2 separate regions of the Homo sapiens genome follow, and region 1 is linked to region 2. Evidence: fine-mapped expression QTL. Tissue or cell type: whole blood. Region 2 holds a variant in brackets; the other region holds the start of a gene. All regions are shown on one strand. Distances are between the middles of the regions.

Region 1 (13,455 bases), 50 kb after region 2:
ATGATCATTATAACTATGCCACTGCACTTCAAACTGTGCAACAGTGAGACTCCATCTCAAAAACAAAAACCCAAACCCTTGATTTACAGATGAACAAAGAGAGGAGAGCAGTACCTTCCCAGCACAATAAGCATAACCTAGAAGAGACATGGTGGAAGAAAACAACAGGTTTCTCCTGTTGTCTCCACACACTTCATAACATCAATTCTACAAACACAAGACTTGGAAAGTCAAGTCCCTTTCTTCATTCCATCCCTTTTAGACATGGCATTTAAAACAGACATTGCTACATCACTAACTTCCCACAAGCTGTGGTATCCACTGGAAAAATGTAGTCCTTGATATTTCCATTTCAGATTCAAGTGATCCTCTCCCACTTATTAACTGGTTCACTGCAATTTCAAAAAGCCAAAAAAGTCCTCTAACATAAGCCTTCCAAGGTGATACTTTCAGAAACCAGGGTTGGAACTAACCAGACAACAGCGCGACGGCCAAGACCAGCTGCTCTTGATGCCCCTTTCACTTCTCTAGGTAAAAAAACAAAACAAAACAAAAAACAAATGGTAAAAAACAAATAAAACTTATGCACACTTTTAGGATAGGAATCATGAAAAAGTACGACATTGGAAATCATATTACCAGTAAAGAAAGGCAGGACAGTTATAGTTTGGTATGTAACAAATACAAAAAGAATTTAAAAGACAAAAAAAAGGGAAATGACCCTATAACATATATATTCTAGTAAGTGAACTGGCTTCCAAATTTTCTCACTGCATACAGTAAATGTGAGTTCTAGACGGTCATTCTTTCACTTGCTAAAAATTGTGCTCCTCAATAAATTCTGGAGATTAAGAAGGGAGGAAAAGGTATAAGCCATAAAAGCTCTCTCCGGGAACTTCTCTATTTCTTTCAAGTGTAGATTTAAAACAAATTACCGTCATTTTAGCCCAGTCAACTTCTAGTATAATCCTAGCTTACTATTCATTCCAATTTAGGTTTACACTACATCAAGGTCTCTCTGGCAAGTCAAAGTTATGAAATCTCAAAGTAACAGAAATCTCTTGAACTGTAATAACTTCGGGGAGCATGGAGAAGTGGGTAAGTGTGAAAATGTCCAAGTGTGAAAAGGTCCTATTTCAGGCCAGAGTGACACTCTTCTGTGACACAGGGAACATGGCAGTCCAGCTGAAGTAACAGTAAAAGAGAATGCTTTTCTCTATTTGATTTCATTCTGATAGAAATAATTAGTGAAAAACTGAAAGAGTGGCCGACAATGTTTTGGAAACTCTCTAATTTATACAAGGCATAAACCACCCTACTACTACTACCATTTCTTACTGGTCTCAAAATACTGTGGCCTTGGGCTTAAAAACCAAATTAGAATTGGTTTGGGATGTGTCCTTTTCCCTATCTGGATTAACATAGTCTATTCCACTTGAACTGCAACAGGTTGTCCGAATTGTTTGTTGTTCTGGCTTTTGGTCACACAGAACGCTACAGTACTTGGGAGTTTTCATCTTTACACGTTGTTATGCTATTATTTCTAAATTCACTGTCTTCAGAATTCTACTCTGTAAACAGAAAAAAAAACAGCATGGCAGAGCAGAAAGAACATTGGAAGAGAGCTCAGGAGGCGAGATTCCACTCCTGCCCCCGCTCCACTATTAACCAATTCCAAAACCCAGACCAGCTTGGAGCCTTTCGGAAGGATTTCCTCATCTGTAGTTGGATGAGGTGATTTGCCCCTTCCGACTCTCAATACAGTCCCACTGTGCGACTGTCTTCACAGCTTTGGGGAGGTGCTATTGAGTGCCTGCTGTACACCACCCACTGAGTGTTGTCCATTCTACAATTCACTTTTAATTTCCTAAAGAATCTTACCTTCTGCTATGTTAATTCCACTCAGCCAGTAACAACTCAACCAATGACTTAGTAAGATGCCAAATGCCCCACTCCTTCTCTTTCCTCACTTCCTCTTACTCACTTCCAAGATGGCTCTCCTCCCTGCCAACCCCATAACTCACCCTTCTCTCTCCAGAAAGCTCGCTCATCTATTAACCATCCCCACAAGTCCTCCTCCCAGGCAGCATCCAACCCGTATCAGTGGGGACAAACAGCGTTCCGAATGCACGGGCTGGCATTAAGGCCTTCTCTTGCCCTGAGGATGACCCACCCGCTGGAGCTCTGAGACTCCTGGGGCACTGGTCCGTAACGCCTCTCTTGGCTCAGTTTCTCCCTAGCTAGGTCAGATGCCAAGGTTATTGCTAAGTTTGTTACTTGCTGGAGAAGACATCAAAGTTGATGTCCCAAAAAGAACAGGGAGGGCCGCGCACGGTGGCTCACACCTGTAATCCCAGCACTTTGGGAGGCTGAGGTGGGCGGATCACTTGAGGTCAGGAATTTGAGACCAGCCTGACCAACATGGTGAAACCCTGTCTCTACTACAAATACAAAAAAGTTAGCTGGGCACAGTGGCGCGTGCCTGTAGTCTCAGCTACTCGGGAGGCTGAGGCAGGAGAATCGCTTGAACCCAGGAGGCGGAGGTTGCAGTGAGCTGAGATGGCACCACTGCACTCCAGCCTGGGCAACAGAGCAAGACTCTGTCTCAAAACAAAACAAACCCCAAAAAACAAAAACAAACAAAAAAACAGTGAGAAACGAAGAAAAGAAAATCAAGAGAGAGAGAAGGGTCTTAAGACGATGAAAAGACAAGGAGAAGGGCCTGATTCAAAGGAGAGTGAGTGGGAGACGCTGAGCAAGCAGCGGGAAGAGGAGACGAGAGGAGAGGAAGCGACCCACACCCAGCGCTCCACAGGCGGCCAAGACAAGTCAAGCCCCAAAGTTCGGCCCCAACTTTGCGAGAAGTAGTTAAGTCTGAAGCCAGGGGGCCTCCCCGCAAGAGGGTGAAAGCAGCCCCCTCTCCACCACCTCTCCCGCTCCGGGACCGCAGCTCCAGGCCAGCACCCGAGGGTCTCCCTGGAGGGCGCCCCTCCCTGCACGCCCCGGGCCCGCCCCTGGGGACGCCTCTGCGCGCCTTGGCCCGCGGGGAGGCCGAGCCTGCGACGCCGCCGAGCTTGGCAGCGAGGCCCTCCCCCTAGCCCGGGTCCGACCCTGGCCTCACCCCGACTCCGACCCCCGACCCCGGCCTTACGTGTTGTCCTGGTTGAAGTTGGCGAAGAGCAGCTGGCCGGCGCCGGCCTCCCCGCTCTGGCTCGCCAGGTTCATGGCTGGGCGCGCGGCGAGTGGGCCCGGCCGGGGAGGGCGCGCGCGCGAGGGCGGGTCAGGCTGCACTCAGGGTCGGCGCCGGGCCCCGCTCGCCGCCTCGGTCGCCGCCACTCGCCACCCTGGGATCAACCGCCGCCTCATCCCGTCCCCGCTCTTGTTTATGCTCCAGAGCCGGGGCACCCGGTACGCCTGCGCGGCCCCGCCCCCGCGACGCACGGCCTCGAGCGGCGCAGTCGCACTGCGGAGGCCCCGCCCTCTCACCGCCTGCCTGGGCTTGGGTTCCGGTGGATCACGCAGGCGTGGGGACGCGTCGGGGCGCGCTGGGCCTGGCTGAGGGCGAGCGGCGGCCGCTCATGCGCATGGGGCAGAGCTGGCGGGAGTCTGTTTTCTGCGTACCCTCCTCTTAATAACACTCAATGGCCAGGCACGGTGGCCTGTAATCCCAGCATTTTGGGAGGCCAAGGCGGGCGGATCACCTAAGATCAGAAGTTCGAGACCAGCCTGGCCAACATGGTGAAACCCCGTCTCTACTAAAAATACAAGAAAAATTAGCCGGGCTTGGTGGTGTACGCCTGTAATCCCAGCTACTCGGGAGGCTGAGGCAAGATAATCGCTTGAACCCAGGAGGCGGAGATTGCAGTGAGCCGAGATCATGCCACTGCAATCCATCCAGCCTGGGCCATAGAGCGAGACTCTGTCTCAAACAACAACAAAAACAAAAACAAAAACACCCCAATGGGCCCTCCATGTGCCAATCACTGTGCTGAATGCTTCTGCGCATTACCTTATCATTTTATTATTTTGAAAGACAAGGTCTCGCTCTGTTGCCTAGGCTGGAGTGCAGAGGCTCAATCACAGCTCACTGCAGCCTCAAACTCAGGCTCAAGCGATCCTCCCACCTTAGCCTCCCAAGTAGCTGGGACCACAAATGCATGCCACCACACCCTGCTAACTTTTAAGTTTTTTGTAGAGATGGGGTGGGGGCGGGGGGGGTCTTACTCTGTTGCCTAGGCTGGTCTCGCACTCCTGGCCTCAAGTGATGCTCCCACCTCGGCCTCCCAAAGTACTGGGATTACAGATGTGAGCCACTGTGCCCAGCCACATTATCTTATTTGATGCCCATTACAATCCTAAGTAGAGAATAGTATATCTTAATTTTACAGATTTGAAAATCGAGGCTCAGAAATAATTATTAGCCAAGTGCTAGATCTGAGACTGGAAACGTCCTGTTTCTCCAAGGTCCATACTGTCTGGGTTCCTGGGACAGAATCGTCCCTTAAATTTATTCATTCATTCAACAGTATTTAGGACGCACCTCTCATGTGAACTAAATAGGCCTCCTCCTTTCCCTCAGAGAAGTTATAATGGGGAGATATTTAAATATAAATAGAAGGCCAGGTGTGGTGGCTCTTACCTGTAATCCCAGCACTTTGGGAGGCTGAGGCGGGTGGATCACCTGAGGTCGGGAGTTCCAGACCAGCCTGGCTAACATGGTGAAACCCCGTCTCTACTAAAAGTACAAAAGTTAGCTGGGTATGGTGGTGGGCACCTGTAATCTCAGCTACTAGGGAGGCTGAGGTGGGAGAATTGCTTGAGCCCCACAGGTGGAGGTTGCAGTGAGCCGAGATTGCACCTCTGCACTCCAGCCTGGACGGACGACAGAGTGAGACTCCATCTAAAAAGTAAAATAAAATAGGCTGGGCATGGTGACTCACGCCTGTAACCCCAGCACTTTGGGAGGCTGAGGCAGGTGGATCACCTGAGGTCATGAGTTTGAGACTAGCCTGCCCAACATGGTGAAACCCTGTCTCTAGGAAAAATGTAAAATATTAGCCAGTTGTGGTGGCACGGCCCTGTAATCCCAGCTACTCAGGAGACTGAGATGGGAGAATTGCTTGAACCCAGGAGGTGAAGGCTGCAGTGAGCCGAGATCATGCCACTGCACTCCAGCCTGGGCGACACAGTGAGACTCCATCTCAAAAAATAAAATAAATAAATATAATTAGAAACTCGGGGGTACAATGAGCGAATATATATATATATATATATATATATATATTTTTTTTTTTTTTTTTTTTTTTTTTGAGACGGAATTTCACCTTCTTGACCAGGCTGGAGTGCGATGGCGCAATCTCGGCTCACTGCAACGTCCACCTTCCGGGTTCAAGTGATTCTCCTGCCTCAGCCTCCCGAGTAGCTGGGATTACAGGTGTGCACCATCACGCCCAGTTAATTTTTGTATGTTTAGTGGAGACGGGATTTCTCCATGTTGGTCACGCTGGTCTCGAACTTCCGACCTCAGGTAATCTGCCTGCCTCGGCCTCCCAAAGTGCTGGGATTACAGGCATGAGCCACTGTGCCTGACCATGAATGCATATATAGAAGTCACACAACCTATATTTAAGGGACAGGGACTGTGCTATTGAGAAGGCTCCTGGAAGAGATGAGACCTGAAGTTTGAGTAACTAGTCTAAGGGCATGAAAACACTCTATATGGGAAGGGCTTGAGGATGAGGGTGTGACCTGTCCAAAGAACTCTATGTTCAGAGTGGAAAGGCAGACACAAGGCAAGATTTGGCAGGAGAGACAGGAGGTGGCCAGATCAAGCTGCGTATTGTTACGCAAGGAACTGACCATTATCTGATTATTGTCCATAAGAGCAATGGTCTGCCGTTAAAGACAGGCAGGAAAGTGGAACGATCTAATGAGTGCTTACAGAAGTTAATTCTAATTATAGGGTCAAGAACGCATTGGAAATCATTGAGGAAAGGATGGTCTTTTCAATAAAAGGAATAAGTACCCCTACCTCACACCATATTCAAAAATTAATTTGAGATGGATTACAGTCCTAGATGTGAGAGGTAAAAACAATAGAATTTCTAGAAGGAAACGAGAATGCCTTCATGATTTTGGGATAAACAAAGTAGTCTAAACAGGTACTTTAAAGCGGATGTGTTGGCTCATGCCTGTAATCCCAACACTTTGGGAGGCTGAGGCAGGCGGATTGCTTGAGTCCAGGAGTTTGAAACCAGACTAGGCAACATGGGGAAACCCGGTCTCTACAAAAATACAAAAATTAGCTGGGCGTGGTGGTGTGCGCCTGTGGTCCCAGCTCCTTCAGAGGCTAAGGCGGGAGGATGGCTTGAGCCTGGGAGTTCAAGCCTGCAGTGAGCTATGACCGCGCCACTACACTCCAGCCTGGGTGACAGAGCAAGATCCTGTCTCAAAACAAAACAAGTTCTTTAAAAAGTAGTAACCACAGGCCGGGCGCGGTGGCTCACGCCTGTAATCCAGCATGTTGGGAGGCCAAGACAGGCAGATCACGAGGTCAGGAGATCGAGACCATCCTGGCTGACATGGCGAAACCCCGTCTCTACTAAAAATACAAAAAATTAGCCGGGTGTGGTGGCTGGTGCCTGTGGTCCCAGCTACTCAAGAGGCTGAGGCAGGAGAATGGCGTGAACCCGGGAGGTGGAGGTTGCAGTGAGCTGAGATCGCACCACTGCACTCCAGCCTGGGTGACAGAGCGAGACTCTGTCTCAAAAGAAAAAAAGTAGTAACCACAAAATGAGAGATTGGCCTTCATCAACATTGAGAAGAATGGGCTATTTTCAAGAGACCATTAAGAGAGGAAGAAAAGGCAAGATTTAGAGATACATATATTTATTTTATATATATATATATATATATATATATATATATATATTTTTTTTTTTTTTTTTTTTTTTTTTTTTTTTGAGACGGAGTCTTGCTCTGTCACCAGGCTGGAGTGCAGTGGTGCGATCTCGGCTCACTGCAACCTCTGCTTCTAGGGTTCAAGCGATTCCCCTGCCTCAGCCTCCCAAGTAGCTGGGACTACAGGCGTGTGCCACCACACCAGGCTAATTTTTTGTGTTTTAGTAGAGATGAGGTTTCACTGTGTTGGCCAGGATGATCTCAATCTCCTGATCTCGTGATCTGCCCGCCTTGGCCTCCCAAAGTGCTGGGATTACAGGCATGAGCCACCACGCCCGGCCTGCAATATATATATTTTTGACAAAGGAATTATACCCAGAACTTCTGCGCATCAATAAGAAAAATATAGACAGCTTTTTTTTTTTTAACTGGGCAAAATACTTGAACACAAGCACTTCACAAAAGAGGATATCAGAATGTTAATGAGCACCTGAAAAGGTGGTCATCGTTAATACTCATTAAGAAAATGTAAATTAAGGCTGGGTGTGGTGGCTCACACCTGTAATCCCAGCACTTTGGGAGGCCAAGGTGGGAGGATCACCTGAGGTCAGGAGTTCGAGACCAGCCTGGCCAACACGGTGAAACCCTGTCTCTACTAAAAATACAAAAATGAGCTGGGCCTGGTGGTAGGCACCTATAGTCCTAGCTACTCGGGAGGCTGAGGCAGGAGAATCGCTTTAACCTGGGAGGCAGAGGTTGGAGTGAGCCGGGATCACACCACTGCACTCCAGCCTGGATGACAGAGCAAGACTCCATCTCAAAAAAACCAAACAAACAAACAAAAAAAGAAAATGCAAATTAAGGGCAAATGAGGTATTACTAAGCATCCACCAAATTGGCTAAAATTAAAGCAACTGACAATCCCAAGTGTGGATGACCATAGAGCGCAATTGGAACTCTCATACACTGTGGATGGAGTCTCGCTCTGTTGCCCAGGCTGGAGTGCAGTGGCACGATCTCGGCTCACTGCAAGATGAAAGTCTAAATTGTTTCAACCACTTTGGAAAACTTGGGCACTACCTACTAAAGTTTTGTTTTTGTTTTTTGTTTTTTTGTTTTTTAAATGGAGTTTTGCTCTTGTCGCCCAGGCTGGAGTGCAGTGGCACAATCTTGGCTCACTGTAACCTCAGCCTCCACCTCTTAGGTTCCAGCGATTCTCCTGTCTCAGCCACCCAAGTAGCTGGCATTACAGGCACCCACCACCACGCCCGGCTAATTTTGGTATTTTTAGTAGAGACGGGGTTTCACCTTGTTGGTCAGGCTGGTCTTGAATTCCTGACCTCAGGCCACCACGCACGGTCTATTTACTAAAATTAAACATATATATACCTTTTGACTCGGCCAAATGCACTGTATATGCATTTCTAGGTGCATATACAGTAGAATTAGTGCATATTTTCACTAAAAGACATAAATAAGAATGTTCATAGCTACTGCATTCATAATAAAGTGCTGAGATTACAGGCGTGATTCACCGCACCTGGCTTGGTAATGTACTTTCATACTTTCTTTAATAAGTCTGCCAATCACAGCACTTTGGGAGGCCGAGGAGGGCGGATCATGAGGTCAGGAGATCAAAACCATCTTGGCTAACATGGTGAAACCCCGTCTCTACTAAAAATACAAAAAATTAGCCAGGCGCGGTGGCGGGCGCCTGTGGTCCCAGCTACTTGGGAGGCTGAGGCAGGAGAATCGTTTGAACCCAGGAGGCGGAGGTTGTGGTGAGCCGAGATTGCACCACTGCACTCTAGCCTGGGCTACAGAGCAAGACTCCGTCTCAAAAAAAAAAAAAAAGTCTCTTTCTTTACTTACCACTGTATAGTCATGTCTCACCCGCCATGGTTATTGGTGAATGAAGATACATAAAGAGGTGCCTGAGTGAATCCTCGGGGTTCTAGACATAGTTCTCCTCGATCTCATTCTGAGCAGCAACCCAACTTTCCCTTGCTCATAGCAATCTATGATCCCAGCTGGAACAGAAACTCCTTCTCTCTCTATTGGTTCAGTGAATGAAGATCCCAAAATGACCGCGAAGTAGACTCAGTTTCCAATGGACCAGAACCACAACTCTGTTCCCTGGGATAAAACAGGGAATTCCATGGCCTGGGTGAGGTGGCTCACACCTGTAATCCCAGCACTTTGGGAGGCTGAGGCGGGTGGATCACCTGAGGTCAGTAGTTCGAGACCAGCCTGGCCAACATGGAGAAACCTCATCTCTACTAAAAATACAAAATTATCCGGGCGTGGTGGCACCTGCCTGTAATCCCAGCTACTCGGGAGGCCGAGGCAGGAGAATCACTTCAACCCGGGAGGCGGACGTTGTGGTGAGCCAAGATCACACCATTGCACTCCAGCCTGGGCAACAAGAGCGAAACTCCATCTCAAAAAAAAAAAAAAAAAAAGCGAATTCCTTGTGTGTTAGGATCTCAAACTCCAGTAAGCCCTGAGTTGGGTAGATGAAAACAAAAGTTCCTTAAGTGAGTTATTAGATGTTATATGCAAGGAAAAACTACCACCTCCACTCTTGGTTTGCAGGTGTGTACTGCATATTATTGAACAACAGCCCAGTCTTACAGGATGTGGTCTCTTAGCTGCAGTCATGACTGAGCCTTCCATAGGCTTGCTTCAGTAGCCTTCTGTAGGCCACTCTACCATCCATCTGGGTAATAGGGCACATGGTGAATCCCAAACGCATGAGCCCATTGTCAAAATTCCTTCATCTTAGTGTAAAGCTCTCAGTCAAAAGAGATGTGAATGGCTGGGCGCGGTGGCTCACGCCTGTAATCCCAGCACTTTGGGAGGTCGAGGCAGGTGGATCACTTGAGGTCAGGAGTTCGATACCAGCCTGGACAACATGGTGAAACCCCATCTCTACTAAAAATGCAAAACTTAGCCGGGCATGGTGGAGGGTGCTTGTCATCCCAGCTACTCAGGAGGTTGAGGCAGAAGAATCGCTTGAACCCAGGAGGCAGATTGCAGTGAGCTGAGACTACACCACTGCACTCCAGCTTGGGTGACAGAATGAGACTCTGTCTCAAAAAAAAAAAAAAAAAAGAAAAAAAGAAAGAAAAAAAAAGACTGGGAGGATCAATTTCTATGTTTATTCAAAGAAACCATAAACATCAGTTCCATGGGGACAATTGGGCTGGTTTCACCTCAAGAACTAAACCCTGGTCCTCCTTTTCTGGTGGCCAGGATGGGCTGGAGCTGAGAGCCGCTGCTCACTCATCCAGCTTTTGTTTAATTGCTCTATCATCTGCGTGGTATTGGGAACTGCCAGAAGGGTGTTGTTGGAGAGCAGGCTGGGTTTCTGCCAGGGACGTGACCTGCGTGTGACGCAGGAATGCACCTGCATGTCTTGGCTCACCTGGAGACAGCATCAGCTGACATTCCTGATGGCATGGAGAGCAGGAAGGATGCTCAGGGCCTTCTATCATCACTTTGGGATTCCTCCAGGTGACCGGCCCGATGCCCAGCTCAGAGAGAAGAGACTTTCTGCTTTCAACCTGAGAGCAGAACCCTCATCTGCAGGTGCGTGGAGTCTCCTTATTTGCTAGCTTCGGAGCTGAGCAATCCTCCCACAGATCAGTGCCTAAATAAACTTGTGGGATAAACAGCTGGTGTGGAGGAGGGAACTAAGGACTGGAGTGAAAGGGTACATGAGTGGAGGAAGGGCTGGACATGCAGAACACTCATATCAAACAGGTGTGTTGGGGTTCAAACCCTGGCTTGGTTCTCCGGGGATATATGACTTTACATCAGTCACTTAACCTCGCTGAGCATTAGTTTCTTTAAAAAGAAGGGCTATGGCTGGGCGCGGTGGTTCATGCCTGTAATCCCAGCACTTTGGGAGGCCGAGGTGGGTGGTTCACCTGATGTCAGGAGTTCAAGACCAACATGGTAAAACCCCATCTCTACTAAAAATACAAAAATTGGCCGGGCGTGGTGGCTAATGCCTGTAATCCCAGCTACTCAGGAGGCTGAGGCAGGAGAATAGCTTGAACCCGGGAGGCGGAGGTTGCAGTGAGCTGAGATCACACCACTGCACTCTAGCCTGGGCGACAGAGCGAGACTCCATCTCAAACAAAAACAAAAAAAAAACACAGAAGAGCTTGAATATCTCACAACCTAAGAATGCTATTAAGATAGAGTGGGGAGCCAGGCACGGTGGCTCATGCCTGTAATCGCAGCACTTTGGTAGGCTGCGGTGGTTGGATCACTTGAGGTCAGGTGTTCAAGACAAGCCTGGCCAACATGGCAAAACCCCGTCTCTACTAAAAATACAAAAAGATAGCTGGGCATGGTGGCTTGCACCTATAATCCTATCTACTCGGAAGGCTGAGGCAGGAGAATCGCTTGAACCCGGGAGGCAGAGGTTGCAGTGAGCCGGAGATCGCGCCATTGCATTCCAGCCTGGGCAACAGAGTGAAACTACATCTCAAAAAAAAAAAAAAAAAAAAAAGGCCAGGCCAGACGCGGTGGCTTATGCCTGTAATCCCAGCACTTTGGGAGGCTGAGGCGGGCGGATCATGAGTTCAGGAGATCGAGACCATCCTGGCTAACACGATGAAACCCCGTCTCTAGTAAAAAATACAAAAAATTAGCCGGGCATGGTGGCGGGCACCTGTAGTCCCAACTACTTGGGAGGCTGAGGCAGGAGAATGGTGTGAACCCTGGAGGCGGAGCTTGCAGTGAGTAGAGATCGCGCCACTGCACTCCAGGCTGGGCGACAGAGCGAGACTCCATCTCAAAAAAAAAAAAAAAAAAAAAAAAGAAAGGTACAAAATCTCAGTTAGAAAGAAGGAATGCTTTTTTGAGAGCTATTGCACAGCCTGGTGAATATAACTAACAACACTGTATAGTACATTTCAAAACTGTTAAGAGGTCAGGCGTGGTGGCTCACGCCTGTAATCCCATCACTTTGGAAGGCCAAGGTGGGAGGATCACTTGAGCTCTGGAGTTAGAGACCAGCCTTGGCAATATAGTGGGGCTCCATCTCGGCAAAACAATTTTAAAAATTAGCCAGCCATGGTGGCGCACAGCTGTAGTCCCAGCTACTTGAGAGGCTGAGGTGGGAAAATTTCTTGAGCCTGGGACGTTGAGGCTGCAGTGAGCCGTGATCATGCCACTACACTCCAGCCTAGGTGACAGAGTGAGACCCTGTCTCTAAAACAAAAAAAAAATTGTTAAGAAAATAAATTTTAAATGTTCTCACCACCAAAAAATATAAATATTTGAGGTGATGGATGTATTAATTAGCTTGATTTAATTATTCCACGTTGTATTCATAAGCCATAACATCACGTTGTACACCATAAATACACACATGGTCAATTTACAATAAAATTTTAAAAATGTAAAGAATGGCAATGGAAACAAAAAATATTGAATGGATAAAAGGAAATGCTTCCAGAATAGTGGAGCAAGAATCTCCAAAAACTCACTCCTCCATATAAGCAAAGAGAATGCTGACAAAAATGGTCAAAATCAATTTCTTCAGACCTGGAAATTATCTAAAGGCTTGCAACAATTTGAAGAGTATATGTTCAAGTAAGAGGGCTGAATCTCAGTATAAACACTGATTTTGTGCCATTTTAATTTGCTCTAAAAGCATCCCTCTCTTCCAGATCCATGAAAATAGGCTGGCTTTTAACCATGGTAGCTGTGAAAACAAGCATCTTGCCAGTCACTGGAAGAGGCAGGCTGGGCTTGGAGCTCCCTAAAAGCCCCATCCCCCAAAAACTGTCACTATTTGACTTGTCTGCCAGTTTGCTGAAAAATGCTATTCTCAAAGCTTGTCTTTATTTGATCCAAGAGTTTGCCAGTATCTGTGCAAATAGCCCTATGCCCAAGGCATTTGTCCAAAACAATCAGTGGCAATTGTTTAACATTTCAACTACCTGATGTGGTGTAACCGTGGCAAGGCAAGGGTTAAAAAGAAAAGAAGAACAAGTTTTCCTCTGCTTAGCAGCTCACTTCAAGGACAGTTACAAGATAACACTGTCTGAAAAGTTGAAGCCAAAGGAATGGGCTCCAGACATCCATACCCGGCTAATTTTTTGTATTTTTAGTAGAGATGGGGTTTCACCATGTTAGCCAGGATGGTCTCGATCTCCTGACCTTGTGATCCCCCGCCTCGGCCTCCCAAAGTGCTGGGATTACAGGCGTGAGCCACTGCGCCTGGCTTGATCAAAAATTTTTTAAAGGAATAACTGGGAAAAGAGATGCCAATAAGATACTTTAAAAAACCCCTGCTGTGTTTCTGAGAATCTAGTGGGCTACGTGCATGTACAGGGCTGTGCGCACACCCAGGAAGACCTGAGAAGGTCCTAAACTCTCACCTCTGGCTGACCTTGAGTGTCTGCACAAGAGGAAATGAAGGCTAAGGCAGAGTTGTAAGTTGCTTGCTGGAGTATTGAAAACATGCCTCAACACACACAGAGTTTGTCAGCAAATGCTGGGAAACTTAATGGTCTAAAGCATTTAAAAAGATCA
Region 2 (13,466 bases):
ACAAGGACAGCAGGGGCCTCCCCCGGCCCTGTTCCCTCAGCCTCTGCCAGGAGCAACTGAACCCTGTCCTGCCCTGTGCCACCAGCTGGGATGAGTTACCTTGCCCAGGAGAGTCTTCTATTTGGGGAGGGGTGTTTTGTGAGCAAAGTGCCCTGAAGCCAATGGGTCACTGTGCACACCATGAGGCGTTTCTTTCATTCTAAGGTGTCACTTAGTTACGGATTTCCAGGGGACAGGTGGCCAAATTAATGACCCTGGGCTGTGAAACACTCCAATTTTCTTTCTTTCTTTCTTTCTTTCTTTCTTTCTTTCTTTCTTTCTTTCTTTCTTGCTTGCTTGCTTGCTTGCTTGCTTTCTCTCTTTCTTTCCCTTCCTTCCTTCCTTTCTTTCTTTCTCTCTCTTTCCCTTCCTTCCTTTCTTTCTTTCTCTCTCTCTTTCTTTCCCTTCCTTCCTTTCTTTCTCTCTCTTTCTTTTCCTTCCTTCCTTCCTTCCTTCCTTTCTTTCTCTCTTTCTTTCCCTTCCTTCCTTCTTTCCTTCCTTCCTTTCTTTCATTCTTTCTTTCTTTCTCTCTCTCTTTCTTTTCCTTCCTTCCTTTCTTTCTATCTTTCTCTCTCTCTCTTTCTTTCCCTCCCTCCCTCCCTCCCTCTCTCTCTCTTTCTTTCTTTCTTTCTGACAGAGTCTCACTCTGTTACCCAGGCTGGAGTGTAGGGGTGCGATCTTAACTCGCTGCAATCTCCGCTTCCTGGGTTGAAGCGATTCTCGTGCCTCAGCCTCCTGAGTAGCTGGGAGTACAGGCACGCACCACCAAGCCTGGTTAATTTTTGTATTTTTTAAAGGAGACGGGGCTTTGCCATGTTGGCCAGGCTGGCCTCGAACTCCTGGCCTCGAATGATCCACCTGCCTTGGCCTTCCAAAGTGCTGGGATTACAGGCGTGAGCCACCGTGCCCCGCCCCTAACACTCCAATTTCATAAACACCACCACAGGGAAGGAATGGTCTTAGAATGAGTAGGTGGCTGCGTGTGGTGCCTCATGACTGTATTCCCAGCACTTTGGGAAACTGAGGTAGGAGGACTGCTTGAGCCCAGGAGTTTAAGACCAGCCTGGGCAATGTACCGAGAACCTGCCTCTACAAAAAGGCATAGTAGTGGGCACCAGGAGTCCCAGCTACTTGGGAGACTGAGGTGGGAGGATCACTTGAGCCCAGGAGGTTGAGGCTGCAGTGAGCTGTGATCCCACCACTGCACTCCAGCCTGGGTGACAGAGTGAGACCCGAACTCTAAAAGAAAAAAGAAAGAATGAGGCTGGGTGCAGCGGCTCATGCCTGTAATCCCAGCACTTTGGGAGGCCGAGGCAGGCGGATCACCTAAGGTCAGGAGTTCGAGACCAGCCTGGCCAACATGGCGAAACCTCATCTCTACTAAAAGTACAAAAATTACCCAGGCGTGGTGGCACGTGCCTGTAATCCCAGATACTCGGGAGGCTGAGGCAGGAGAATCGCTTGAACCTGGGAGGCGGAGGTTGCGGTGAGCTGAGATTGTACCACTGCACTCCAGCATGGGTGACAGAGTGAAACTCCATCTCAAAAAAAAAAAAAAAAAAGGAAGGAAGGAGGGAGGGAGGGAAGGAAGGAAGGGAGGGAAAAAAAAGAGAGAAAGGACCATGTATTGCCCAGGCAGAGCCTTATGGTTTACACTCACTGCTCTCGAACCTCACTCCCTGTACCTGCTGTTATCTCCGTGGGATGCAGGGAAGCCAAGGGCCTCTCTAGCACTTTCTCCATCCTGAGGTGCTGGGCAGCTCTCTCCTCAGGCTCTCTCGGGAGCTGTCTGTGCTTGGCCACCCTCCTTCCCCGGGGACATATCAGACTACACAGTGCCTGCTTCAGAGCAGACAGCGTTTGCTGGTGCGGGGTGTGTGTGTGTGTGTGTGTGTGTGTGTGCGCACGTGTCTATGTGTGTGTGTGTTGGGAGAGCCTCTGTCTGAAGGCTGAGGTCAGGAGCTCAGAGTCAAGCCGTCTGGGGGTGATGCTCCGGTCGCCCTCTCTAGATCTGACTGGCTTTTTCTTTTTCTTTCTTTCTTTTTTTTTTGACATGCACTCTCACTCTGTCGCCCAGGCTGGAGTGCAGTGGCGCGATCTCGGCTCACTGCAACGTCCGCCTCCCAGGTTCAAGTTAGTGTTCTGCCTCGGCCTCCTGAGTAGCTGGGATTACAGGCGCCCGCTACCATGCCCAGCTAATTTTTGTATTTTTAGTAGAGACGGGGTTTCACCATGTTGGCCAGGCTGGCCTCAAACTCCTGACCTCAGGTGATCCGCCTGTCTCAGCCTCCCAAAGTGCTGGGATTACAGACGTGAGCCACCTCGCCCGGCCTGACCGGCTTTATCGATTCACCATTTTAAATGGTGATGAATCGGCTCTCCCGCGGGGGAATGGCATGATTAGGAAACAGGTCGTTGAGAGGGGAGGGGTGGCCAATAAGAAGGCAGGCGGCCAGGAGGCCGTGGGGCTACAGACAGGGGAGGGAGCTGCCGCTGGAATGGAGTCCCACTGTGGCAAGGTCACCCTCTCCCCGGAGGGAGAGGCGCCCTCCGAGACCCACATTCATCCACAGGCGGTAACGAGAACAGAGTGAAATTCCCATTGTCGGAGGAAGCCAGGTTTCTCCACGGCCTCTGTTTGCCATTTTTGCATTGGGAGTTCATTCAAACTAGCACATTGGCGAAGCTCCCGGGTGCGACCGCCCAGCCCCCAAGGACACAGTCTGACCAGGGCACCCTCCCCCACAGCTCGCCAACCCACCAGCCCCGCAGATGTCTGCACAGTTGGGAGACTTCCACCACCTAGTGGCCGTGAAGAAAACCATCCACCCTCCTCAGAGCTCGGGGTTGGGAGGAGACTCAGGCGGCTCCTGAGGTCCTGATGGTCTATCCGTCTGTGTCTCGCAGCGTTAGGGTCCAGAGAAACACAGGAAAGGCAGGGCGGGGGCGGGGAGGGGTGCAGGGGAGCTCACCTGGCCCGGCCTGCCTCCCTTGTCTACCCAGCTTGCAGGGCCTCAGCAGCTCCAGGAGTCTGACAACAGCGCTCTGGGGAGGAAAATCTTACCAAGGAAGAGTTTGTAACTGTAGCATGCTTGTAAACTAGAATATTATTATTTTTTTTTTTGGTAGAGGCTGCGGCGGGTCTCAAACTGTTGCCCAGGCTGGTCTCGAACTCCTGGCCTCAAGTGATCTTCCTGTCTCAGCCTCCTGAGTAGCTGGGCATATCAGCCCACCTGGCTAATTTTTTTTTTTTTTTTTTTTTTTTTTTTTGAGCTGGAGTCTCGCTCTGTCGCCCAGGCTGGAGTGCAGTGGCGCGATCTCGGCTCACTGCAAGCTCCGCCTCCCGGGTTCACGCCATTCTCCTGGCTCAGCCTCCCGAGTAGCTGGGACTACAGGCGCCCGCCACCACGCCCGCCTAAGTTTTTGTATTTTTAGTAGAGAGGGGGTTTTACCGTGTTAGCTGGGATGGTCTTGATCTCCTGACCTTGTGATTCTCCTGCCTCGGCCTCCAAAGTGCTGGGATTACAGGCGTGACCCACCATGCCCGGCCACACCTGGCTAATTTTTTAATTTTTCGTAAAGACGGGGGTCTTGCTCTGTTGCCCAGGCTGGTCTTCAACTCCCAGCCTCAAGCAATCCTCTCACCTCGGGCTCTCAAAGTGCTGGGATTACAGGTGTGAGCCACTGTGCCTGGCCCCTAGGATACTATTTTATATTTCTAAAGATATCTGCATTATTTATTTATTTATTTATTTATTTTTGAGACAGAGTCTCACTCTGTCGTCCAGGCTGGAGTGCGGTGGCGCCATCTCGGCTCACTGCAACCTCCGCCTCCCGGGTTCAAGCGATTCTCCTGCCTCGGCCTCCCGAGTTGCTGGGATTACAGGCACGCGCCACCACGCTCAGCCAATTTTTTTATATTTTTAGTAGAGATGGGGTTTCACCACGTTGGCCAGGCTGGTCTCGAACTCCTGACCTTGTGATCTGCCTGCCTCGGCCTACCAAAGTGCTGCGATTCCAGGCGTGAGCCACCGCGCTCAGGCAATTTTTTGTATTTTTAGTAGAGACGGGGTTTCACCATTTTGGCCAGGCTGGTCTCGAACTCCTGACCTCGTGATCCGCCCGCATCAGCCTCCCGAAGTGCTGGGATTCCAGGCGGGACCCTCTGCGCCCACCGGGTGCTTGGCTTTAAAGGTGACTTGTCCTCCCGCCCACGCCATTCCTCAGAGTCACTGCAGGACTGAATGAATGGCGAGGGCAGGCGGGCAGGAGGCTCCAGGACTTCCTTCAGAGCCCGTTTCATTTTACTTAGGGCTTCTGCTAGTTAGTACCCGTGTGCTCTGGGATGCTGGTTTAAGCAGAAAATCCCAGCTGTTATTTCCAAAGCTGGTGGCGGAGTTTAGAAGTTTCTCGACTTAACATGCACCGTGCCTCCTCACACCGAGCGCAGATCCGCGCCCTGCAGACAGAGCTGTGCGCGCCAGGGAGCCAGTTCCCCAACCCTGCCGTTCTGCGGCCCTCGGTGGACTTCGGTCCGAACTCTCCCAGGTCCCCAGGCTCAGGCACAGGCTCAGCACTAAACGCACCAGGGAAGGTCAAGAGGAGGGCGCTGAGGGGACCTCCCCGAGGGAGAGGAAAGGCAGGGAAAAGTCTTCAGATTCCCTTGAGGAAAGGTGCTTCGCCGTCGCAGGGAGCCCAAGCACATTTCTGCGCTGACCCACTAAAAAGTAATGTCGCACAGGAAGAAAAAGCCACTTCTAAAAGCAGCAACAGGGCCGGGCGCAGTGGCTCACGCCCGTAATCTCAACACTTTGGGAGGTCGAGTCGGGTGGATCACCTGAGGTCAGGAGGTTTTTTTGTTTGTTTGTTTGTTTGTTTTTTGTGACAGAGTCTTGCTCTGTCGCCCAGCCTGGAGTGCAGTGGCGTGATCTTGGCTCACTGCAACCTCCGTCTCGCAGGTTCAAGTGATTCTTCTGCCTCAGCCTCCCGAGTAGCTGGGACTACAGGGGCGCACCACCAAGCCAGGCTAATTTTTTTTTCTTTTTTAGTAGAGACGGGGTTTCACCATATTGGCCAGGCTGGTCTCGAACTCCTGACCTCAGGTGATCCGCCCACTTCAGCCTCCCAAAGTGCTGGGATTACAGGCGTGAGCCACCGCGCCCGGCCGAGGCCAGGAGTTTGAGAACAGCCTTGGAAACATGGTGGAACCTCGTCTCTACAGAAACATGCAAAATTATCCAGGCTTGGTGGTGCGCACCTGTAATCCCAGCTACTCCAGAGGCTGAGGCAGGAGAACTGCTTGAACCTGAGAGGTGGAGGTTGCAGTGACCCAAGATCATGTCATTGCACTCCAGCCTGGGCTACAGAGCGAGACTCCCATCTCAAAGAAAAAAAAAATAAAATCAGAAGCAGAAGCTGTAACAGAAACAGAAATCAGCACAGGGAATAGTGGAGTCTTGTGTGTGTCCGAGGGATGACACGATGCTCAGCGTCTGCTCAGACAGACGGTGGCTGTGAGAAGCCCTGATGGGAGAGCTGCCAGCCTGGACAGCCGGCTGTGAAGACTCCACGCCAACCAACGTCCCGCAGGCCGCACGGAGATGGGCAGGACCGAAACACACAAGGCTTGGCCTTTGATGAAAAGGAACTCCCCAAGCCAGAAGGAAGTGTGTGATGAAGCAATTCAGCTCAGAGAAGGATGTGCTTCTAGAAGAATCGCCGCATCAGCACTATGTTTAAACTCACATGCTAATCCAAACATGGACCGGCAAGAACGCAGGCGGAACAGGTCCACCGTGTCCTGGCCCACGCACAAGCGGGCCAGCTGTTCCACCAACGCAATCATTCAGCTGCGGCGACACCCGGAGGGGCTCCCCTGTGTAATGCCCCCCACCCTGGGAGAGCTGGGTTTCTTTTTGTTTTCTTTTTTCTTTTTCTTTTTTTTTTTTTTGAGACGGAGGCTCACTCTGTCGCCAGGCTGGAGTGCAGTGGGCGATCTCGGCTTACTGCAAGCTCCACCTCCCGGGTTCAGGCCATTCTCCTGCCTCAGCCTCCCGAGTAGCTGAAACTACAGGCGCCTGCAACCACGCCCGGCTACTTTTTTGTATTTTTAGTAGAGACGGGGTTTCACCGTGTTAGCCAGGACTATCTCGATCTCCTGACCTCGTGATCCACCCGCCTCGGCCTCCCAAAGTGCTGGGATTACAGGTGTGAGCCACCACGCCTGGCCGAGTTGGGTTTCTTTAAAAGATTTTAGTCAGGCTTCTGGCATTTTGCTATAATATTCTAGGTAGAATTATAGGGCAATTTGGTACAAATTAGATGTTTAAGGCTGGGCTCGGTGGCTCATGCCTGTAATCCCAGTACTTCGGGAGGCCGAGGTGGGTGGATCACGAAGTCAGGAATTCGAGACCAGTCTGACCAACGTGGTGAAACCCCGTCTCTACTAAAAGTACAAAAATTAGCCTTGCGTGGTGGTGGGCACCTGTAATCCCAGCTACTCAGGAGGCTGAGGCAGGAGAATCGCTTGAACTTGGGAGGCAGAGGTTGCAGTGAGCTGAGATCGCACCACTGCACTCCAGCCTGGGTGACAGAGTGAGACTGTCTCAAAAACAAACCAAACAAACAAAAACAAATGAGATGTTCAGCCTGTGAGTAGGCAACAAAAAAATAGAACACAGGTTTTAATTTTAAGAGAGGGGGTCTTGCTATGTGGTCCAGACTGGCCTTGCCTCAAATTGCTGGTCTCAAGCGATCCTCCTGCCTTGGCCTCCCAAGAAGCTGGGATTATAGGTGTGAGCCACCACGTCCAATTCTTTAGCGTGTTATAAAATGCTGATAGCAATGGGCTTTCAGTCAGATTTGGTGGGGGAATGTAATCAGTATGTTCACCTGAAGCTCAGGCAGGCACACACACACACACTCACAGACACACACACACACACACATGCACGCACACTGGCAGCACCAAAAACAGCTTCACCTAAAATGAAGTGTTAAGAGGAATCTATTTACATTATAACTAACTATAGAAAGAAACGATGTAGAGGTGAGGAATCAAGACAGTCTCTTCACATTCTGAACTTTAGAAAGATTTCATTTTTCTTTTTTCTTTTTTTTTTTTTTGAGACAGAGCTGTGCTCTGTCACCCAGGCTGGAGTGCAGTGGCATGATCTCTGTTCACTGCAAACTCTGCCTCCCGGGTTCAAGCGATTCTCCTGCCTCAGCCTCCTGAGTTGCTGGGATTACAGGCACATGCCACCATGCCCATGTATTTTTAGTAGAGACGGGGTTTCACCATGTTGGTCAAGCTGGTCTCAAACGCCTGACCTTGTGATCCACCCGCCTTGGCCTCCCAAAGTGCTGGGATTACAATAGGCATGAGCCACCGCGCCCGGCCTCATTTTTCTAAATTAGAGACTTTCCTAGCTGGTTATTAGGGAAGGGTAAGAACTGGTCACATCTCAAAACCCTGAGATTGGTTTTGTTTTGTTTTTGTGCTTCAGAAAAACCCACAGATTGAAAAGGTATGACATAGGTGAAGGGTTATGACCTGGGTCAGAACTAAAAGATACGTCAGAAAAACCCTATCTGCTTGGCCAATGATTATCATGATATATTTTCAGTAAGAAATAAGTCATAAAAAAGAGAATTCTATGTAAAGCAGGGAGGCGACCCAAACAGAAGTCCCACGGTTTCCCTGCACGTTCTTTTTACATCTCCAACACCACAGAGCTGAAGCCGAACGGTCCCGCCTCTCTCTTAAGTACGCTTGTAAAATAACGCATTTGGATTTCCTGCTTGCTGGCCATGGTGTCACATGTCCGTTTCTTTTTCTTTTTCTTTTTTGAGACAGTCTCACTCTGTTGCCCAGGTGAGAGTGCAGTGGCATGACTCAGCTCACTGCAACCTCCACCTCCCGGTTTCAAGCAACTGTCCTGCCTCAGCCTCCAGAGTAGCTGGGATTACAGGCACCCACCACCACGCCTGGTTACTTTTTGTATTTTTAGTAGAGACAGGTTTTGCCATGTTGGCCAGGCTGGCCTCGAACTCCTGACCTTAGATGATCCGCCCGCTTCTGCCTCCCAAAGGGTTGGGATTACAGGCATGAGCCACCTCATGTACATTTCAAACAAGTGACTCGGTCATTCCCTGCATGCAAAGGTCTGGTCTACAAAGATGTAGGGCAGGGGACACACGAAACAACAAGCCTGGCCCATCCCCACCCTTTGCCAATGTGGTTATGAAAACCACGAGCAGCGGGGCGAGGTGGCTCATGGCTATAATCTCAGCACTTTGGGAGGCCGAGGCGGGTGGATCACTTGAGGTCAGGAGTTCGAGACCAGCCTGGCCAACATGGTGAAACCCGGTCTCTACTAAAAATACAAAAATTAGCCGGACGTGGTGGTGCGTGCCTATAGTCCCAGCTACTTAGGAGGCTGAGGGAGAATTGCTTGAACCCAGGAGGTGCACGTTGCAGTGAGCCGAGATCGTGCCACTGCACTCCAGCCTGGGCGACAGAGCGAGACTCAGTCTCAAAAAAAAAAAACCACAAAAACCCCCAAACAAAAAACTAAACCAAAAAAACCAGACGAGCAACAGGGATGAGCATGTTTTCTGCCACCCCTTGTCCCGTTTCCTTGGCTAAGCTGTGGCCAAAGCACTCCCGGCCTTTTACACATGGAGCCCACTGCTGGTTGTGGAGGTAGGAAGACTCCCTCTCTCCCCTCTCCAAATGAAACCGTGCGTGGGAAGAATCACCCAGTTCTCTCTGTGGCAGGGAACGGCAGCCATGGAGCTCCTGGGTCCCCTGACAGGGGCAGGGCCTGCTGTTCCAGGGCGCCCACCACCTCCCAGACCAGCTCGCACCACCTGCCCGTTAAGCTTGGTGTTGAGAAAAGGCGGGGATGAAAGAGACCCACGTGTAACCTCCATGTGAATTACACTTTTTTTTTTTGAGACAGAGTCTTGCTCTGTCGCCTAGGCTGCAGTGCACTGATGCAATCTTGGCTCCTGGCAACCTCTGCCTCCCAGGTTCAAGCGATTCTCCTGCTTCAGCCTCCCAAGTAGCTGGGATTACAGACGTGCACCATCCCCCGCCCCACCCCCCCAGCTAATTTTTGTATTTTTAGTAGAAATGTCGTTTCACCATGTTGGCCAGGCTGGTCTCGAATTCCTAACCTCAAGTGATCCGCCCACCTTGGCCTCCCAAAGTGCTGGGATTACAGGTGTGAGCCACCGTGCCTAGCCTCTGAATTACACTTCTTACCCGTATTGTCACCTCCCTCCCGCCTGGCTTATTCAAAAACCAGAACTGAATAAAAATCGTGTTTAATT[G/A]CAGAAGACACATTTATGTTGTAGCGTTTATTGGGTGCCCACCGCTGGCTGGGCACCGAGCTGGGCGTTTGCAGGACACGCAGTCACACAACACCTCACAACAGCCCTGTGAGGTAGGGATGAGTCCCATGGAACGGTCCAGAAAACGCAGGCTCCCAGGCGCCCTGCCTGCTCCCACAGCTAGGCAGGCGGTACAGCGGGGACTGAAGCAGTTCTTTTTGACTCCAGGTTCCATCCAGCTCTTGGTCCCATTGTTTTAGAGATTACAGAAGGTTTGGTCCCAGAGTCCACTGAGCCCATTCACAACGTTTACAGGTTTTGTTTCCTATCCCCCACGCTCATCGTCCTTTTTGAAGTTTGGAAAAATACAATTTAAAAATGAATATGAGTGTACAGTTTGGAGTTCGGAAAATTAGCACACGTTCTGTTTGGTTCAGGGTCCCTCTCCACCTGGGTCACTGGCGCAGCAGTAAGAGTTCTAACGGGCAACTCAGCGGCCTCCCTCTGTCCCCGTCACTCCTGAGCATGTCTGAGGCCGCCAGTGAGGCTGGGACTCATAGGTTCGAGCAGAGGAAGAGGAGCTGGTGGCAGTGAAATGGGCAACGGGAAAGTGGAGGCGGGTAACCCTCCACAATGGCTGCTCAGCAAACACAGAAATCCTCTTCATTCTTCTCGACCAAGAATCTGCAGTCCTCCTCCCTCCTCTAGGGCGCACAGCTTAGCCCTGACCCAGGCAAGCACAGGGCTTCCCGTGGTCTGCAGGGAACGCACCTAGCCAGCCCTGCCAGGGCCACCCAAGGGGGAGTGTGGGCCGAGGGTCACAGGACGTCCGAGGCCTCCTCTGCAACTGCCTCATCTTACAGTGCGGGAAGCCGAGGCTGAGCGAGGAAGACAATTCCCAGCATCTTCTATACTACCAATCCCAAAGAAAGACAAAAGAGACCTGGCAAAGGAAATTTGAGTCTCCAAATCACCACCACAGGCAGGCACCAGAACAAACGATACTTTAACGCAGAACTGGAAATGCAGCTCACTCTTTGGTGACAGGAAACCCTAGCTCAGGGTTCCGTATCTCTTGTGCACACTTTTTCCCCCCACACTCACTCTTGCCAAAAGTGGCTCCCAGGAGATGGAGTGCACGGTCAGGTTCTAGAGAGAGCCCTCTGGCCTTGCACCACAAGACGCAGGCGTGGGTCAAGGCTGCGTGCTGCCGCGGCCCTTCTCATCCCTGCTCAAGCATAGCCCACTCTGGCCTCGGCGGTCCCCACTGTCTCAGCCTGCGTGACCGGGATCCCATTTCATCAAAGGTCCAGGACAGACAAGCAGGTTTTGAAGGAAAAGTTCAATCAGCCCACTTGCACCTCTGCCTAATGCAGATGTTGTGTGTGCCGCACACCAGCGGCTGGGAGGAAGCCGGTGTAGGTGAGTCGGACTCCAGCGTCCCCTGCATTTAGTTTGCCGTAAAGCCAACCCAGGAACACTGGGGCATTTCACCGCAGCCGCTCAGCTGAGGGGACAACTCCCCTCCAGCTCTTCGCCCAGCGTGACCATGACAACCATCTGGAAACAGGCGTCCCAGCCTTCCTCGGTTCAAAAACCCCAGCCTGCAAAGGCAGGGTAAATAGTTTTTGCCTTTTCCCTTCTATCCGTAACTTCCACCACTCCATAGATTCTAAAACCATCTCTCCTGCCATTAATGCCACTTAAATGCCCTCGACACTTTGGCTGCTGGGTGCCTTGGTTTGGAATGCAGAGTCTGAGGTACTTGAGGTTGTTTTAATTCTGTAAATATGAAAAGGGAAGGGAAGCGAGGCAAATACTGAAGCTTGCAACCACAATCTCTCATCGGTTTGCTGAGGAAATTTTCTAAGATGAAAATAGAAAGGCACATGACGCCCTGTGAAGGACGTGGCCCAGCCGCCTACTCTCTGTTGCTGTCTCCCGCTACGACCTCTCACACAGGTAGGAAGCCCCTGCGGACAGCGGGGCCAGCGAAAGGACAGCTCAGACGGCCACCACACTTGAGTTCTGTGCTTTCCTGGGCATGGGAGGAGCTACAAACTTTACTTAAAAAAAAAAAAAAATCACACAGTTTTTCAACAGGAAGAGTGAAGTAGAAGAACAGATCATTTAATTATACAAACAAAATCGCTTTCCTTTGCTCCAGCGAGTCCAGGCAACCTTTCAAGTTCATTTGCTGCCTGAAAGAAAGGTTTTTAGTATCAGAAAGAACCTCGCTGTCCTCCAATATCCACAGGGAAAACAAGATCAGAAACAAAAGTCCACCATGGAAGAAATCCCAGAGCGATCCAATTTGGAAAGAATTTAATTAACAAAATAAAACGGAGGGAAAATGGTCCAGGTGGGGCCCTAGGGAGATCGGACTTCTGTCCCAGCTGAAGTCTGCCCAGCACACCTGGTGGGCAGCCCCTGGGCCTGTCACTGCAGAACTGGCCTTGACAAGCAGACCCACTGTGCGCGACGCCACGGTTTCCTTACGCACTCGGCATTATGTACAGATATGAAAAAACCCAACGGCAGGTGGCTGGAAAGTGGCTTCTAGCTCCCCTATGCTGGCTTGGCACGTTCATGCATGCAAAGCGAGGAGGTTTTGCGGGCTTCACCAAACAGTTAATTTTGGCAAAAAGAGAAAACAAACAAACAAAAAGCTAAAATTCATAAGCAGGATTTAAAAGCCACTGAAGTGAAAATGATGTATTTCCTCAGCGTTATGGAGTTAGACTACCACTACAATCTTTTTTTTTTTTTAATAAAGTCTCTGCCATCCTCTCCCCCGACTCAGGTCAAAGTTCATAGCAGCAATGCACAAAGTCCTCTGTGAAGCCAGTGTTCTCTGCTCCCCGGGTCAGAGGTCACAGGTCAAGTTCAGTCAGTCCGAAGAATCATGGGCGGGTGCTCGCTGTCCTCATCCAGGCGCAGGGCGCTGGCCTCGTCCTCCAGGCAGGCGCCACCCACAGCACCCAGGTCGTCTGTGTAGGCTGCAAAGAGACGACGAAGTCACCCTTCAAAGGCTGGGGACACACCACAGACCCCATGACACACACTGAGGACTGTGTTTTGGAAACACTGGTGTATATTTATAAACTGAAGCCTGTACTAAGACGTTCTGAATTCTGATTGCTTTCTAATGAACTCTTTGCAGCCTTAGGCAGCTCGAGATGAAGTCATTTGTTCTCTGACATTCATAAATGTCAAAATGATGCCTGCACAGTAAACAGAGGCTCCCTCATGGACGGGCCACAAACTCTCTCAAGCTGGTTAAGAGCTCAAAAATAACACCAGGAAAAAAAATGACACTAGGAGACTCTCAGGGTGGGCTCATGAACTGGAAGTGCCGGTTCACAGATGGGAGTGGCAGCGAGCAGGCACAGCCCTGCGTGGGTGCAAAACCACAGGCTCTCCCACTGGAGTGCGAGTTGGCTTTTTTAAGAAGGTGGCTCACATAGCCAAGGCTGTGGCTGGAGGATCTCATGCATGGGTCTTAGTGCTGCCGCCGGAGGGGAGCCCATTGGCCTCATTCCCCTACAGCTTCTGCACTTCACAGGCCCAGCATGAAGGCAGTACTCGATGCAGATTTGCTGAAGGACGAAAAAGGTGGGAGGGAAAAGACTGAGGCAAAACCCTTGGCAGTACTTTTCAGGGTGGTATCTTGGCTGAGAGGTGGCCAGTCTGGGCCCAAGTCACGTGACCCCAGAGTCACCTGAGCCAGGATGACATTTTCTTTAAAAACGGAGAAAATGAGCCTGGTACGGTGGCTCATGCCTATAATCCCAGCACTGTGGGAGGCTGAGGCGGGAGAATCACTTGAGCCCAGGAGGAGTTTGAGACCACCCTGGGCAACATAGGGAAACCCCATCTCTCCTTTAAAAAAAAAAAAAAAAAAGGAAACGAAACTGAATTCAGCCTTGAGAGAGGCCTTGGGAACACCCATTTACCAACCTCGCTTATGTTCTCAGAACCAGTCCCCATCTTTCCCAGTGAGGAGCTGGTGGGGTGGCTCCGGAGCCAGCAGAAGGCAGTAGCACTCGGGGCTGTGGGGCTAATTACCTTCCAGGTTTGCGTCACGCCCC

Evidence for each region.
Region 1: WIPI2 starts here. The variant in region 2 is fine-mapped to the expression of WIPI2 in whole blood (TOPMed, PIP above 0.99). The same link has a PIP of 0.9 or more in monocytes after interferon gamma.

What each region holds. Positions count from the first base shown.
Region 1 is chr7:5,180,190-5,193,644 of GRCh38, reverse strand. WIPI2 (WD repeat domain, phosphoinositide interacting 2) reads right to left here and starts at 3,412. Exons shown (of 13, transcript NM_015610.4): 1 at 3,152-3,412; 2 at 474-527. The coding sequence starts at 3,225. RefSeq lists silencers at 2,918-2,967, 2,978-3,627, 6,301-6,430, 10,440-10,640.
Region 2 is chr7:5,229,743-5,243,208 of GRCh38, reverse strand. WIPI2 (WD repeat domain, phosphoinositide interacting 2) reads right to left here. Exons shown (of 13, transcript NM_015610.4): 13 at 9,369-12,374. The coding sequence ends at 12,262. Among named protein-coding and RNA genes, the nearest start is that of WIPI2, 46 kb to the right of the region's middle. RefSeq lists enhancers at 2,134-2,223, 2,697-2,991, 11,103-11,252 and a silencer at 8,477-8,536. The variant G/A (reference allele first, on the strand shown) is at 9,376.